2 separate regions of the Homo sapiens genome follow, and region 1 is linked to region 2. The links come from fine-mapping of genetic effects on gene expression. A gene starts in region 2. The other region holds a variant in brackets. All regions are shown on one strand. Distances are from middle to middle.

Region 1 (8,639 bases), 55 kb after region 2:
AATCAAAGATGATAGAAAGTTCAGATGACATGGGCCAAAAGTTGAAGAAAGCACGGGGGTATCAACAAGATAGGAAATAACCCTGAAATAGTGTTGATTCTGACCACAGGGTAATCCACAAATTTGAGTTGGGGAAAATGTCAAATTTCTCATCTCTATCAGGACTTTTCACCTTCTTCAGGTTAGGTCATATTGGATATAACAATTTCCATTTTGTCCCAGATTATAGAACTGTCAAACTTTAGTATATACCAGAATCATCTAGATAATTTATTAACAAAGGGGCACAGGGACCTACTTTAATTAAAGAGATTCTGTGCCAAGCACAGAGTGAGGGCTTAATTGATGGTGACCATTAGCATTGTTATTTATTTCACTCTTCCCCAAAGGGCAGGTGTGGGCCTGACCCATTCATTCACAGATTGGCAAGAGAAAGAAAAAATATGCACAAAACTTGGAATTTGAAAACCTGTGTTCAGACATCAGTGCTGCTAATTTCTAGGTATGTGACTTTGGATGAGTCACTTCATGTCTTTGAGCTTCAGTTTACTCGTCTGAAATCATCACAGTCAATAATGTTTATTTAGAAGGCCATTGTAAGAACTGGATAAAGGAATGCAGAAGAAAGAATCCAACAACAAAAGGGCAGGAGGCTGTGGTTTAAAATGTGGACTTTCTCTATTATGATTAAAACACTCATTTACTTCCAAATCCCAGCCCTGCCAGCCATCATTACCTGTGTAATTGTAGGCAAGTAAACCTCGCTAGCCTTGGTTTTCTCATATATGAAAGAGACAAAAACAATACTTTGTCTATATCAACTCTCAAACTTTACATGAACCCTGCTGTTATGAGCTCTATTTTATTGTAAGGGAACTGAGGCACAGAGGAGTTAAGTAACCCAACCCAGATTCACACAGATGCCAATCTGGTTTGTGTCTCCAGGAACTCTGCTTCAGAGTCTCTACACCTTACTAGTGAGCCTGCTGCTCCCACGAGTGCACAAGGCATGTTTAGGAAGGGCCCAGCACACGACAAATGCTCAGTAAATATTTCCCCAAATTTGAATAACTTACTTTCACATTACAAACTTCATCCTTCTATTTCGTTACGCAGTCCACTGCACAGCTCAGACAGTCAGTGTTCAACCCTATTTAGCTATTGCCCGTGAACACAAAAGTGCACTTGGGCTGCATAAAAACTACAGACATGTTTATACAAGAAGGGGAACATTGTGTCACATTTGGTTTTTATTGCTTTCAGCACATTAGGCACATACTATCTGTTTATTAGGTAAAGGTGAAAGGTTACAGATCACCTTAGAATAAAAGTATAGATGAGTTGCTTGAGAAAGGGCTACATAGAAAATTGCTGTTATAAATGTACAGTAACCTAGAGCCTTTCGACTCTTGGAAGCAGCTTATGTGTGTGCTGACAATGACTGACATACTGGAAATGAAACCCGTCTTAACAGTACAGGATGTGGAAGTACACACCAAAATTACTCAAAGAGAGGAAAGGAAGTCAGATGTCAACTAGAGTTAAGGGCAATTATTATTTATTTTGGAGGAGCTTTCCAGTGAGTTGGGGGAACACAACCCAGGCTGAGGGTGTGGGGTCTTATTGAAATCATGAATCAGAACAAATTGGGAGATACATAGTCTGATGATAAGACAGAGTGTGAGGACTCGGGACATATGTTCCTTGCAGCCATAGAATTCATGATGAGGGACTTGCAAAATGGACATTCAAGTTCCTGAGGACAAAGGCTGATCCAAACAAAACGATTCCGTTCAAGTTTGTTGTATTTCTTTTAACTACTTCCCAGTCATTACCCACAATTTGATTTGAAATACTTATAAAAGAAATGTACCCCAGTACAATGCATCATTTATGAAATTATGCATTCCATTTATAGAATTACTATTAATGCAAACTCATAGTTTTACCAACACAATTTAGATATTTCTGCTTCCATATTGCAATGATTGCATTATCCTCCCATGGCCAAGTGGAGTGGTAAGCACATTCGTTTAATAATAAAATAGACAGTAAATAAATCAACACCCTTAATGAATGCTAAATTGAACACAGAATTTATGCCACTATAAGGAAATCTCCACAGAACAATATTCACTTTAATGCTTTCTTTTTCCTCTACTAAAATCCTACAGTGTATCAAAATGAAGAAAGCACCTTCAATGTGAATTATGTAGGAATGGACACGATGACAATTCTGTTTTTCAGAGTAGGGTTACAGAGACACTTCTGCTTGCCCCCGCGAGTGTCGGTGTCAGCCTCACACTCCTCTTGAGTATGGATCTATAGCTATGAAGGAGCATAATTGGCAAGGAAGGGCTTTTCAAAACTAACCCTTCCCAAGCAAAGCCGATTCTGACGACTTTCGCTTTCCCTCTCTTGTTCAGCAGAAGCAACCCCCAGAGGAGTTGTGTTATTGACTAAGCCCCAGTCGGTAAACACCCCTGAACATCATAAAAAAAAAGAGAGAGAGAGAGAGAGAAACACCAACATGAGCCAAAAGACGCCTTTCTAAGGAAAAAAAGCCTGAAGACGTTTATCAATGGAGAGAGGGCTGTTTACTTACATTGCTCACAAGACCTTCCAACAGCTGGAGTCTTTGAACTCTAGTGTGCGCAGATGTGGAGCTTTTGCTCAAAATCCCCTTCCCTTTGGCAGCGAGGATTATTCATAATTCTTTGGGGCTTCAGATTGATAAGTAATTTCCTGATTCGCTTTCAAAAGCGTTCTCCCAGGCTTTGAGCGGTGGCAGAGAGAGGGAGCGGGCAAGGACCCCGGCGTGCAATGACGCTGTGGCCTACACAGATCTCCTGATTGTTTGATCGAGCCCGAAAGAAGACGTCGACATTACAAACAAAAATAAATATCCTTCTTTATCTGTTGGCTCGCTCCCCAAATCATATTTGGGAAATAGCACAGTGAGTCTGGACAATATTTTTTCTAAAAGTGTGATATTAGCTGAACACCTTCTCATTGTTGTGCTGGGAGAGATCAGGGCACCTCTGACTGGTCTTCAAAGACCAGCAGTTGCAATTTCTTTCTTATCAGCTACTTTACAGGATGTTCTTAGAGACCAAGCAGCCCAGCCCCTTCGGTTGACAGTAGAAAGAAACGATGCCCAGGGCTTACAAGACTTGACCAGCATCACACAGCTAGTTAGTGGAAGGACAGGAACCTAAGAGCCGACTGTCAAGCCAGTGCTGTGTCCACTGTAGGGAGGTGGAGGCAGATGCAAGGGCTGGAGATCTGACTCTCGATCTTTTAAGATACCTATCACTGGACATGGCCCTTAATGTTTCTGAGTCTTGATTTTCACAGCTGCAGAATGAAAATCGTAATAGTAACCCTTGCTTGGTCATACAATGTGGTAATCTCTCTGAAAGCATTTTGTCCAGGATGAAAGCAATTGTATCCTAAGATGAAATTTTGTCGTCACAGCCCCATTTACATGCTTCTCTTCTCCTTTCCATTCTCATTTTCCATTCGGTGTTATTTTCTGACTGAAAGAAACCATTGAGTGACTTTTGGATGGAGAAGGAGGAGTATAGTGGCCAGGAAATGAGATAGAATATGGAGAAAATTTTACCTTGGAAATCCAGGTCAAGATTAGATGAAAGGGTATACAGCATATACAGCATATCTTAACATGTGCCTCAGAAAGAACACTAGATCTAGAAATAGAAAATCAAGGCTTGGCCACTGCCTGGAACACTTAACAGCCAAGGGAGCCCTGTGGAGTCATTTAAACGTTCCAAAACACAGTTGACTCACTGGGTATGTGATCCCTGTCCCATTGCACTTACCTCATTTTGTTGTGGTTAGAATCAAATGAGGTGTTTATCAAGATAGTGCTTTGCAATGTTTTAGGCTTTGAAACTATAAAGTAGTTGCCATGGTTTGAATATACGTGTTTCCCCACAAATTCATACGTTGGAACCTAAGATCCAATGTGATAATATTAAGAGGTGGAGCATTTAGGAGGTCATTAGGTCACAATGGCAGGGCTCTCGTGAATGGGATTCATGACCTTGTACAAGGGCTGGAAGGAGATAGCTAAGCCCTTTTTGCCCTCTACCCTTCTGTCATGTGTGGACATAGCATTTGTCCCTCTGGAGGACTTAGCAACAAGGTGCCATCTTGGAAGCAGAGACAGAGCCCTCACCAGGCCTTAAACCTGTTGGCACCTTGATCTTGGATATCCCAGCCTCTAGAACTGTCAGAAATAAATTTCTGTTGTTTATAAATTACTTAGTCTGTGGTATTTTGTTATAGC[A/G]GTACTAATGGGCTGAGACAGTGGTATTTTCCAGCGGGATGTGCAACTACCATTGCCCATTTCATCTGTGTCATTGGCTGACACCACTAGGTGCCAGGGCTCCTGGGTTCTGCCTTGACTTTTTTTCCCCCTTTTCCTTTTAGGAGTGTATTTCATCTTTTTTCCCTTGTTATCCACCTCTTGGTACTTGTCTCCCATGCTTGCTGCTATTGGTTTTCTTTCTTAGGACTCAAATTGTCCTTCCATTTTTCATGTAATGTTAAGAATGAAGAACAAAGAGAAAATATTTTGTTCAGTCACACAGAAAGGCATCCACGGTATCTTGACACAAATGGGAATGTCTTTATTTTTGAAGTAGCCATGAACAAAGATCAAATGAATCAAGATCAGCGCCCCCTTGAAAATGATCAAGTCACAAGTCCAACTCATATTTTATGGTTCCATTCACTATCTTACCCTTTTATTAATTTATTATTTGAATGTTATTTAAGATTTGCACTCTATCATCTGTAAGAAGAATTTTCTAGTAGAGTCTTGCTTGGGCTGCCATAACAAAATACCATAGACTGGGTGGCATAAACAACAGAAATGTATTTTCTCACAGTTCTGGAGTCTGGAAGTCTGAGATCTGGGTGCCAGCGTGGTTGGATTCTGGTGAGGCTTCTCTTCTTGACTTGCAGATGGCTGCCTCCCTTCTGTGTCCTCATATGGTGGGCAGAGGGAGATCTTTCTCTTCCTTTTCTTAAGAGACCATAGTCCTATTGGATTATGGACCCATCCTATGACCTCATTTAAGTTGGATTAGCTATGAACGCCTCTATCTCCTGATAAAGCCGTAATAGGGGTTAAAGCTTCAACACATGAATTTTGGGGTGACACAATTCAGTCCATAGCAAGCCTGCGGGAAGTAAAAGAAGGGAACGAATACTTATTGAGCCTTTTTTTTTCCCTCACTGAATTGTCAAAACAACATTGATATCTTGGTAGTGACTTTTCTAAGGTCACAAAGCTAGTAAGCAGCAGTGACCAAATGTAAACCATGACGACAAGAACCCTGCTCCCCTCATGACACATTCTGCCTCCACCTCCTCTTTTCTCCGAGATTCTGAGCTGTGACCCTTTCCTTTCCTTTCCTACTCTTTCCTATTGAGTTGCCTGGAGGCAAGACATTGTTACCCAGAGCACCATGAGAAGGAAGCCATGGGGATTCCCTCCATGTGCCCACTGAGCTTAGATTGACAGCTGTAGAGAGTTTGCCTGGAATGTTCTCTTCCTGCATCCCTCCCAGCCCCCTTCATGTTAATAAGTCCCTTCATTAGTTCAAACTGAACTCACATGCTTCTTCCCCGGGATGTTTTCTTTAATCTGACCCTCCGCACCCTTGCTCTTCCTCGCTATATTCTCTTATACTGTCCTACACTTCCCCTTTATAATTTTTTCTCCTTTCATAGGATGTCATAAGTGTCATTTTATTATTGTAGTGGTTATAGCAATAGGTATATATTTCTAAGATAATTTGCATAATGGTTGTCTCCCTCACCAGTCTGTAAGCTCCCTGAAGCCAGGGATGCTTTGCTCACTAAGATATGTCCAGCCATTAGGACACTAACATGAAAAGCTACAGAGGAGCAAGGGAGGATTAGACAGGGGCAAGCCGGGGAAAATAAATAGTAGAAGAAAGGCCCTTCAAAATTCTTCTGCAGCAGTATGACTAGCAAGCATACGCCCAAGAACAGTCTAATGAGGCCCCTTTATTAAGCCCTCTGTGTACCACCAAATGCATTCTTCCCCTGTCGATTTTGCTAGGTTTGGCTAATCAAGAATGAGGTTGTTAATGTGGAGAGAGGCAGCTTGAGGAGCGGATCTTGGGTCGCATCTGCTGTCTGCTGGTCAATGCCTGGGTTCCTGCAAGGGCAGCACAGCCTGGCCCTCTGCAGGATGGAGCTGCCTGTTCATACCCCAACAGCCTCAGTCTCTTCCTAGAAAGAGCTGACGGGACAGGGCGTGAAGATGTGTAGGAACTAGGAGGAATTCCTACCAGGGAAAGACATTTTCAGTTGAAGGAACCACATGTGCAAAGAAACGGAATGACAGCATGTTGTGTTTAGGGAACCTCAAGAAGCCTAGTTTTGTTGGTGAGTTACAATAGGAAATGTGATAGTAGAAATGAAAGTATCAGATAAATCTTAAGTGTTTCCATTATTATCTATTTCTCAAAATTGTTTGGAGGGCCAATGAGAGAGTACATGTGGAATTGCTTTATAAACTGGAAAAAAATCCTACGAAAATATTTTTATTACAAATTCTTTTGGATGAAGATAACTAGAATATTAGGCTAAGAAACCATGCTGGGAAATGGAACTATTTATAAATTTCTTTTATTTATAAACCTAAAGTTTTGATTAATTTCCTTCTTATAATCTCCTTTCAAAGGCTAGAATGTAAGTTTATAGTATCTGTTGAATATGAGTGAGTTGGGATGTATGTTTTCAACTCAGCACCATCCCTGGCCCTTTCCACTCTCTCTCTCTCTGAGGGAACAGAGACTGGAAGCCTGGAACTACATTTCCCAGAATCACTTGTAGGCAGAGTTCCTAATTACAGCCAGCCAAGGAGGGCACACACAGGGTTGTGAAAGATACAAAATAATTAGAGAACATTATTCTTTGGTGTCAGTTACAGAGTGGAAACAGCCAGCTGATGTATGGTTTGCAGGAACTTCTGGGTGAGATCCTAGAATCTCACACTTTCCTATGGCTTCCCAGCAAGCTTGTTCTTCTCAGTTTATAGCCAAACAGAATGCTTTTTTTCGCCAGTTGTTGGTCCCATGAACCCCTTTTAAACAATTATTTTTTATTTAGAAATATTTATAGACTCATAAGAGGTTACAAAAAAATTTACAAAAATACCCTAGCCTCTTCAAATGGTGACATCTTATATCACTATAATAATCATAGAATTAAAAAAAATCGACATGAGTACAATAGTATTAGGCAGACTACAGACCTTCTTCAGTTTTTACCAGTTTTTATGTAGATTTACTTGTGTGTTGCATAGTTCAGTATAGTTGAATACAATATGATCTCATGTATAGATTCTTTACAGTTCTTTAAATGGCTCTTTAAGACTTTAATTTCTTGTCTTAAATCTCTACCTGATGCTATTTTCTTAACTGAATGCTGACTGAGGTGGTTAATACTTTCTTGGTGTTATCTCACATTTGAAGTCTTGCAGTCAAATTATGGTGCTTACCTTCCATTATCTTCATTAATGTATTCAACTGAAATATCACTGACTGATACAACTTCACAGGCCTTCTTTCCCATTGTTTTCATCACAGGATTACAAAGGCATTCCCAGTGTATCATTACATTATATGTAAGTTACCACAAAAGATTTTTAGCTATTCGTTGGGCTGTTAATTGCTCAGTTTTCAAAGTCATTCTTACTGTAGTAGATTAAAAATGCAAAACTTTTTAAATCATTCTTAAATAATGGTAAAATAATTTATATATGATAAGGCAGGAAACAAACAATAACAGATGTAGCTGATGGATAGGAGGAGGCTAAGCTATCATTCTTGAAGATAATAAAACTATACACCTAAACAATGCAGCAAATTTAACAAGGGCCATTAGAAATAATATATGTTTAACAGAGTTTATAGATACAAAAATACATACATGAAAGTAGCCTTCCTATATATCAAAATAATCAGAAAACAGAATGTTTAAAAACCCTCTAAAATCTAAAGTGATGCTGGTTTCCCTGCAGAGGAAGGAGAGACTTGCCTCTCCCTAATTCTGGGCTGTTTTCTCACTTGAGCCTTAATCAGCACAACTTGTGTGCAGAGACTCTCAAAATTTTGCTAAAATATTTTGTTTCTTTCCCTTCTCATCCTTACCTCTGACTCACTAACCACAAGCGATCAAAATCTGGTCTGAAGAAGCCGAGGGAAATGAACACTATGACATGTTCTTTGTCCCTTCCTAATTAAGACATATTTCCTCTCAAAATATCCTAGCCTGCAGAGATGGTCCCTGGCTGTAACTCAATTTTTTTCTTTTTTACATCATTTTCTCCAAGACAGTGTAACAACTTAAAACCACATATTTCAGAAAATGATCTTCGCTTTACATTCACCATTTGGTTGGCTTTCCCAGAATAAATGAACCATCTGCCCTAAAGAACTCTGCAAGTCTTTGCTACTTGCAACCAGTGAGACTAACAAGTTTCCTGGCTAACCATCCCATTACTGGGTATATACCCAAAGGATTATAAATCATGCTGCTATAAAGACACATGCACACGTATGTTTATTGCGGCA
Region 2 (8,639 bases):
CTTGTCACTAAGTTCAACCCTTATCACCGTGCTTAACACTGCAATCTGCCTTCTTCTGCCCATGACCTTCCTTTTATCTGCTCTACATTTTTTCTATTCTTTATTGTACTTTTCACTTCTAACTCAGTAGCTAATTCCTATCTTTATTTTATATCTATATTTTTCCTGATAGAATGTAAGCTACATGAGGGCAGGGATCTTTGTTGAAGTCATTGATGTGTCCAACCACTTACAGCAGGGCTTAACCCAAAAAACATGGCTGGAGAAAGAGGAGAATTTTGTGGGGAGGTTTGAGCTTTGTGGGGGAAAAAAACTGGTGAGAAATTATGAAATATGAGAATATTACACAAGAAAGAGGGAGGTGGGGTTTGAAGAAATCTCCCTGGAGCCTATGTGTCCTTTTTGCAGTGTTTGAGAAATACAAATACAAAACTTGAGTTGTTTTAATTTGACATAGTCTAGGGTGTTTAAAAATATTTTAAAATTAATTTTTTATATAGGGAATACATGTACATTTCATAAAATTCAAAAGAAAAAAGAGTATGCAACGATAAGTCAATTTCTTCACCTCCCTTTGAGTCTTCTGGATACCCAGGTTCCCTCCCTAGAGCTGATCACCTGTGCGAGTTTCTTGAGTGTCCTCCTTCCCCATGTTGGCATCCCATATACAATGTTCTGTACGTTGCCTTTTCACTTAGTTTCCATATGAGTATTTATAGCTTCTGTATTGACACCTATATGTGTAGAGCTGTCTTGTCCTTTTTTATTTAGTGGCTAAAAAAATCCATCATATAGATGTGTTTGTAATATTTAACCAGTTTCCTATGATGGGTATTTGGACTATTTTCTTTCTTTTGCTGTTATAAGCAATGGTGCAATGAATCTATCTATCTATCTATCTATCTATCTATCTATCTATCTATCTATCTATCTATCATCTATCTATCTTAATCTACAAATGGCTTATGACATGAGCAGCAAATAATTTCCCCCAGTTTGTCCTTTGTCTTTCCTCATGTATTTTAAAATATTTTTACCATGAAAATATTTTTTGAGGTTCAATTTATTGGGTTTAGAAGGCCTTCACCACTTTAAGGTCCTGAAAAGAATCCTTGTGCTTTTCTTTCAATTTTTTTGTTTCATTTTTTCACATTTAAAAATTTGTTCCATCAGAATGTTTCTGATAAAAAGTGTGAGGTAGGGATATAACTTTATATTTTCAACTCCTTTTATTGAATAATCCACTCTTTACCCACTCCCCCACTGCCTTGCAGTGAACTTGATTATTTTGACTGGGAATAAATCACGTAGGTCACAATTTCATAAACATTACAATAATTTTTAACAGCTTTATAAGGATATAATTTGCACACCATAAAATTTACCAAAGTGTACAACTTAATGTACATCACAATCCAATTAAAGACTATTTTAAAACTCCAAAAAGAAACCTGTACCCCTTAGCTGTCACTCCACATACAATATGCTTTAAAACATTGAATTGAATTCATGAGTAGCTGGGACTACAAGTGTGTGCCACCACACCTGGCTAACTTTTGTATTTTTTAGAGAGATGAGGTTTCACCAAGTTACCCAGGTTGGTCTTGAACTCCTAAACTCAAGCGATCTGCCCACCTCGCCCTCCCAAAGTGCTGGGGTTTCAAGAGTGAGCTGCCACGCCCAACCTGGAAATACTGTTAATCTTGAACACGTCTGTCCTGGATGCTAATTATAAATAATCCTCCATCCTATTTTTCTGTAGGGATTACAAAGTAACAGGTTTTTGTTTTTAAAACACATTTAAAAAATTTAATTTGTGTTAGTTTAGATTCAAGAGGCTCCATGTTCATGTGCTTATATTTGAGGCAGAAATGTTGTATATAGTATTTTGTGAATTTATTTAGTCATGGAGCCCTTTGTTCTCGCTAAACTAGCCATGGAAAATACTTGGAGAAATACTGATTAACTCAGTACAAAGATTGAAATCCTGGAAAACATGTTCATAGATTGAGATCCCTTTGTAAATAGCATATTATTTTTTCCCCAGTGTAAGTAGACTCCAAGTATATTTTTTTCTTGGAAAAATAAAATATGTTGGTGGTGGGAATGTAAAATGGTGCAGCGCCTGTGGAAAACAGGATAGTGATTCCTCAAAAAAATTAAAGAGAATTACCATATGATATGGCAATTCCACTTTGGGGCATATATCCAAAAGAAGTAAAATCAGGGACTCAAACAAATATTTGCACATGCATGTTCGTAGCAGCAAGGACTCAAACAGATATTTGCATAGCCATATCTGCAGCGTTATTCACAATAGGCAAAAGGTGGAAGCAACCCAAGTGTCCATGGAAAGGTGAATGGATAAACAAAACCTGGTCTACACGTACAATGGAATCTTCTTCAGCCTTAAAAGGAAAGGAGATACTGACACATGCTACAACATGAGGAACCCTGAAGACAGTATATTATGTGAAATAAGCCAGTCACAAAAGGACAAATATTGTGTGATTCCTCTTACACAAAGTTCCTAGAGTAGTCACATTCATCAAGACTGAAAGTAGAATACTCACTGTTGGAGGAGGAAGGGAAGAGGGGAATGGGAATTTATGGTTTCATGGGTATAGAGAGTTTCAGTTTGGGAAGACGAAGAAGTCCTGGAGAGATGGTGATGATACTGCATAACAAAATGAATGTATTTAATGCTGCAGAACCGTACACATAAGAATGGTTGAAATGGTAAATTTTATGATATGTATATTTTACCATAATTAAAAAAACTGAATAAAAATGAATTGGAATGCAGGGAGAGCCCAGTATTCTTATTTCTGTGCCAGGTGTTTTAAGGACATCTTTTACTTTATCCTCACACCACTTGTTATGAAGTAAGTGCTATTACCTTCACTTTATAAGTAAGAACATTGATACTCTGTGGGCTCAAGTCCACACAGGCATGAAATGGTGCAGCCAGAATTTGTACTGAGTTCTTTTGTCTTCAAACACTTGAGTTTGTCCCTACATCATGTGAGGGAAACTATAACATATTACTTCATGACAAAGGGCTGGACTTGATAATTAATTCAAGTTGAAAATGTGCTTTGCCTGGAAATCATTAAGAAGAGAATAGGTAACCAGGAAAAGCCAAAACGGGACATTTTCTTGGCCTGCAGAGGTGGAGATTTCACAACAGCAAGCTCTGTGTTTCTCTTGTTGCACTGGGAGTGGCACTGTGATTGGGACAGGATGGAGACCTGAGCTGCTCATGCCTCAGTTCCTTTTATGTTGTTGTTCACCAGTTCTTTGCTTTTGGGGGCTCCAATTTTCCTCTGCAGAACTGCTTTTCCTGTTTGCCATGAATTAACCTCCTTCTCCTCCTGGCACTACTCAAGTCCCTGCAAGGCCACACAATTGCACTGTGTTATGGCTATCTATTGACTTGCTTGTTTCCCCACTAAAATGCAAACTCTAGGACAGAGACTAGTCTACAGTAGAGGCTCAATGAAGAAAAAAAAATTCATCAATATTTATTATTGTCAACAGTTCATTATTGATAAAGTTTTGACTACTTTATGGCACAGTGATTAAAAAAAACCCTGACATTTGCAAAACATTTTATATCCTAGAGAGCAATGCTAAGCCCATATCGTCCTCCCCAAAACCATCTTGTGGTAGGTTAGATGGGGAACCAAGGTCCTGAGAAGTCCCGCAACTTGTCTATGGTTAGAAAGCTAGTGTCAGTCCAGAGACTTGAAGCTAGGTCTTCAGTTTTATGGATTCTTCCTACAGAGCCATCTGTTTAATAAGCTAAAAAGCTCCCGTCACGAGAACAGGCCATTGCATCTACATTTGCCAAAATTCTAAAAAAAAGAGTAAACACCATACCTTGCTCTTAGATGGTGGGCTGCTGCAGGATTCTAAATCCACAAGAGACTGAGGATCTTTCATGAGAGCTCAGTGAAAAACTTGCTTTGGTACCAGACAGAATAACAGATCCAAATTCTCAAAGATTTCCAAATAGTTGTGCTAAAAATAATTTTCTCGTTTAGTCCCAAAGAGCCAAAGGCCCTGGAAGTCATTCATCGAGTGAGGCTCAACTCGGGGACCAGTTAAAATTACAGTTTTGTTTGGGATAAACTTTAAGTGCCTGCTTTCCTTCAGTGGTAAGTTTAGAGCTTCTCCATCTCTGTGTGTTGTGGCCTCTTTTTCAGATTTGTTTACTTAATTTTTTCCCTCTTCATTTGTTTTCCACTGAGTGAATGTTTCAGGAAAAAAATTACTCACTGACTGGAAATTAGTTGTTAACTTAGAGAAAAAAGCCATTTTATATTTGAGAGTTTTGGAGGTAGAGCCTTTAGATTCTGGACCTAGGATGGTGTCTTGTGGAATAATGAACACTGTCCCTATTCTTGGTAAATATGGCAGGAAAATAGCCCCTCATTCTATGTGCTGTGCAAAGAAAGAGGGTTATGAGAATTGCACTGATTTTGTTTTCTTTGTTCTTTGCTGAATGGATAAATGATTGGGTATTTTTAGAAAACTAATATGTCTTTGTGCCTGTAAAGAACTGATCATAACATCTCAAAAGGCAGAATGATTCTCCAAAGCATATGACTAGTCGTCTATGGTGCAATCAATTTCTTTGTTTCCTTCTGCTATGTATTTCTTATATTTCCTTGGCAACAGCAATATATAATTTATGATGTCATTTATGGAAATTAGACGACTGAAAAAAATCTTGTTTTTATCTTTCTTTTCCTCTCATTCTTCTCAAGCAATGAGAACTCTAATTGAAAGGAATGTTTCCAGAGTTAGTGAAGTGGATGTTGACCACACACTTGACCAACGAGATTGCTGGGCTCCCCGTTCTGACCAGCTTAATTTTGCCTTTGGGATCCACTCTCCACACTGGAGGAAATGGTCCTTTGAATTTGTTGGCTTTCCAAAATCTTAATGCCATCATAGGATGGTCAAAACAATGTCTTGAGCATAGAAGCTAGTCATAACTTATTGCTAAATTAGAGTCAGATTTTAATCAGATAAAGTCTCTGTGTCTGTTTTCTCACTTTCAAAATAAGATGGTTGTCCTTGATTATTTCCAGGGTTTCTCATAGTTCTTAATATTCTCGAACCAAATGATGGTGTCTGATGTCACCCATTTACAAGCTTAATTTCAGGTGATACAGCCTTTTAATATGTTCATTTATTTGTTTATAAGTGATAACTTCTTAAGTGGGCTTTTTCCATTATGTCTGCTTTGGAGTAGCCCAGTCTCTGCCAGGGAGCTCAGAAGTGGATGAATTTGTAGACCAATAAAAGAATAGATGCATTCTTATTTTTCTGCCTTAAAGTGTTGATACAATTTGTGGATATTCATATTTTCTTTTCTGTGTCATTCACAACTTCTCTAATTTCTCTTTAATGTTACTTACCACATAAAATAAGGTTTTTTGTATCATTAAAGTATTACAGTATTTTTTCTGTTCTTCAATAAAAATTGAATTTCTTCTTTTTCTTCTTTATTATTTTCATCCCAGATAATTTATTGTAATCTGTGTCTTTCTGAACTCATTCTTTTTCCCAGAGAGAATGAACCTTTGAAAATGTCTCTGAGAGTGTTCAGAACCTCAGATGTTGATAAAGCTTGTCAGTGTCTATTTCACTCAGTTATTTTCACACTTAGAAGCAGTGGTGAAGTGATGGGTAGAAAAATATGCTTAAGGAAGTATTGGCTCAGAGTAAAAGTCAGATTCCATTTTTACCTGCCACTCACCCCAAGGACGGGGTCTTATTTTGTCTTTCCTAGGCAGATAATCTTCCTTTCTCAACTTGTGCTCTTTTTTACCCCATATCCTTTATTTACTTTTCAACTGAATTCATTCCATTCCATTCCAATCCCATCAGTGTTCCCAGAGCACCTAACAGTTTGCCGCTAACCTAGCTCTCAAAAAGAAGGTTCAGATTTGTAGCTTTTGTTAGTTTTCTTGGAGTGAATACCCCCGCCATGGTCAATTTCAAGCTAACAATCTGACCTTCACTGAATGCAGAGTTGGAAAGTTATAGAATGTAGAATTGTAGAATTCGCACTTGCTGGCAGGTATAAGCCAGCTCTGCTCACCACTACACACATACATACACACACACTCACACACCATTTTTCTAGGTGGTAGAAGTATTTTAAAAAGAAGGTTCTAGCTGATATGTAATGAGCATGTACAACGTGCTAAGACATGACAAGCATCACTTTCTTTAATCCTCATCATAACCTCTTGAGGTGAGTAATTGTATTATCCTCCTTCTACAGATGAGTAATTTAGACAGTCTGATCCACAATTGACACACCTAACTACTTACCATATTTCCTCCCTAGGTTGTTGCTAACTTTAAAAGACCATGTTTTTGCATCCAAACAACTTGCAGTTGCATACCCTCTGTTTCTTCCTCCTCCTCTCCATGGGTGCCCTGGGTTCTGTTAGGAATTGAATCTTCTCTTTGTAACCTCAGTGCCTTGCTTATATCATCTCCAGTAGCTGCAAGCCATTACCAACCATGTCTCCCCTATGCCTCTTTCTCCATCTGTTCACATTTATCTTCTGTATGCATCACTTTCTACAGAAAGTCTCCCTGATATTCTCAAGCAGGCACAACCCTGTCTTCTCCTGAACCCTTCTAGCACGTAATTTGGATCTGCCATGCACTTTAGCTCACTGGCTCTTAACTAGATCTACTGAATGAGCATATCAGTAGATTAAGTTAGGCATTAATATTTTTTAAAAGCTCTATGGGTGATTCCAATGGGCAGCCAGGCTCTAGGAATCTTTGCCTTATCTACTCTTGCTCAAATGATGCCTTATCTGCTTGTCCTTACAAACCGGGGAGTTGTAGTGATACAAATCTGGTCTTCTTTGTGTCTCATCCTGTTCTTTTATTTATTACTTCATCACTTATTTATTTAGCTGCTACTATATGTCAGATGCTGAATGCTTGGTCTGGGTATTCAGTAGAGAGCAAACAAAGAGACCTTGTAGAGACAAAATCTAGTGAGGAAGAGAGATATTTATGAAATAATCACAGAACTGTGCTTAACAGGATATGAATTGGGAATTCCCATCCACTTGGAATTTCAGCTGAGAACACAAAGCAGAGAATGATAGGCAACCAATGCTCATACATCGACTTAGAACTTGTTAAAATCCAGCTGGATCTGACAGTGACCATCAGCCATTTTCAGTCCACATAAAAGAAAGCTAGAAATTCAGAAAAGATTAGTGGTTGAAGAGAGGCATCAAGGTAGAGTTGTGGAGAAGGGAGAGGAGTGCAGGGGCAGCTGTTAGAGAGGCAAGAATATATGCACTCCCCAAGAGGGAGATGGTACTGAGGAAGGCAGCTGAGTGGGGCCATCGTGATGGGACTTCCTGAGCCAAGGAGTCCTCCTAGTGGGGGGAGGCCACTAAGAAGTCACTGGGTGTATCACTGAGTACAGAATCTGAGGCTGGTGGGGGGAGCACTGCAAGCTATCAACCAAGGAACACCTTCACCCCGAAAGAGCCAGCATTTGGCTACCTGGAGTGCATAGCAGACATTGGAGCCAGGAGAGGATCATACAAGTAGCACTTACTAAGTAAGAATAATTCAGTCACTTTTTTCCTGATTATTCTACTCTCTGACCTGACTCAAGAGGAGCTGAAAGTGAAAGGAAGTGGCAGGAGATGGGGGAAGAGTGAAAGGGTACAGCATATCCTGAACTACAGCCATGGAGATGGACAAGTATTGTATTGGATATAAAATAGAAAATTTGATTGAGATTTGTCTTTTTAATATCTGAAAATGAGTCACAATTGACTAATAAAATTGTTCATGTAACTGGAAGTTACCAGAAAGCCAAGAAATTTGCCTGAGATGTCATAAAAGGGCAGGGAAGAAAGATCCAACAGAATTTGGCTAGAACAAATGATGGAAGAAAAATGAGGTTATTTTTTATTCATTTCATATTAAGGACAGTTAATACCATTTGATAAACTCAATAAGTTTTGGAGAATGCTTGAAGGAAAAAAATAAAGGATATTGTGGAGTGTTTAGCCGGACAACCCAGTTGAATCTTGCCTAAAGAACTTGCCTAAATAAGAGAGAACTTGCCTAAAGGAATGACATCTGACCTAAAAGGGGGGGAAACGGTAGGCATGAACCTGGCAGAAGGGCAGGAAAACACATCCAGGCTGAGAGAATGTCATATGCAAAGGCCCTGAGGTGGAAGAGGATGATGCTGAGTGGAGGCCAGTGGGAAAGAGCAAAGGCAGGCATAAGCCTGCAGGGAGGATGTGCCTGGGCCAGGCGGGGCTCTGTTGGCCACGGGAGGTTTTGGTCCTTATCCTGGGGTCAGTAGGTTCCTCAGAAGGGCTGTGAGTGGGATTTCATGAACCAGGCTGTTGACCAGGTAGAGGTGGTGCCTGCTGCCGCTTTCCTGGCTTTTCAAGCGGACTTCAACCAGCTGAAATGACTCAGTTTGGTTTCTAAACTGAATCTGCTTTCATTGCAGGGAAAGAGGTGGGTTCTTATGAGAAAAGGAGTTTGCATATTTAAAAAAGGCAATTCAGTGACTCATGGAATGAACAAATGTCATTGACCCCTGTGTGTGCCAGGCA

Direction of the effects. Alleles are on the strand shown, and positions count from the first base shown. SD is a standard deviation of normalised expression in the study named.
For the expression in ovary of the gene that starts at base 3,956 in region 2, A is the low allele of the variant in region 1 and G is the other (moderate effect, 0.41 SD a copy in GTEx).

The links.
Region 1: its variant is fine-mapped to the expression of C1QTNF7 in ovary (GTEx, PIP 0.98).

The regions. Positions count from the first base shown.
Region 1 is chr4:15,368,736-15,377,374 of GRCh38, reverse strand. The region is part of intron 1 of C1QTNF7-AS1 (C1QTNF7 antisense RNA 1); the gene reads left to right. It also overlaps a transcript of C1QTNF7 not described here. Among named protein-coding and RNA genes, the nearest start is that of C1QTNF7-AS1, 55 kb to the left of the region's middle. The variant A/G (reference allele first, on the strand shown) is at 4,313.
Region 2 is chr4:15,423,350-15,431,988 of GRCh38, reverse strand. It overlaps C1QTNF7 (C1q and TNF related 7), which reads right to left and starts at 3,956. Exons shown (of 3, transcript NM_031911.5): 1 at 3,883-3,956. It overlaps C1QTNF7-AS1 (C1QTNF7 antisense RNA 1), which reads left to right and starts at 4,075. Exons shown (of 6, transcript NR_125911.1): 1 at 4,075-4,160.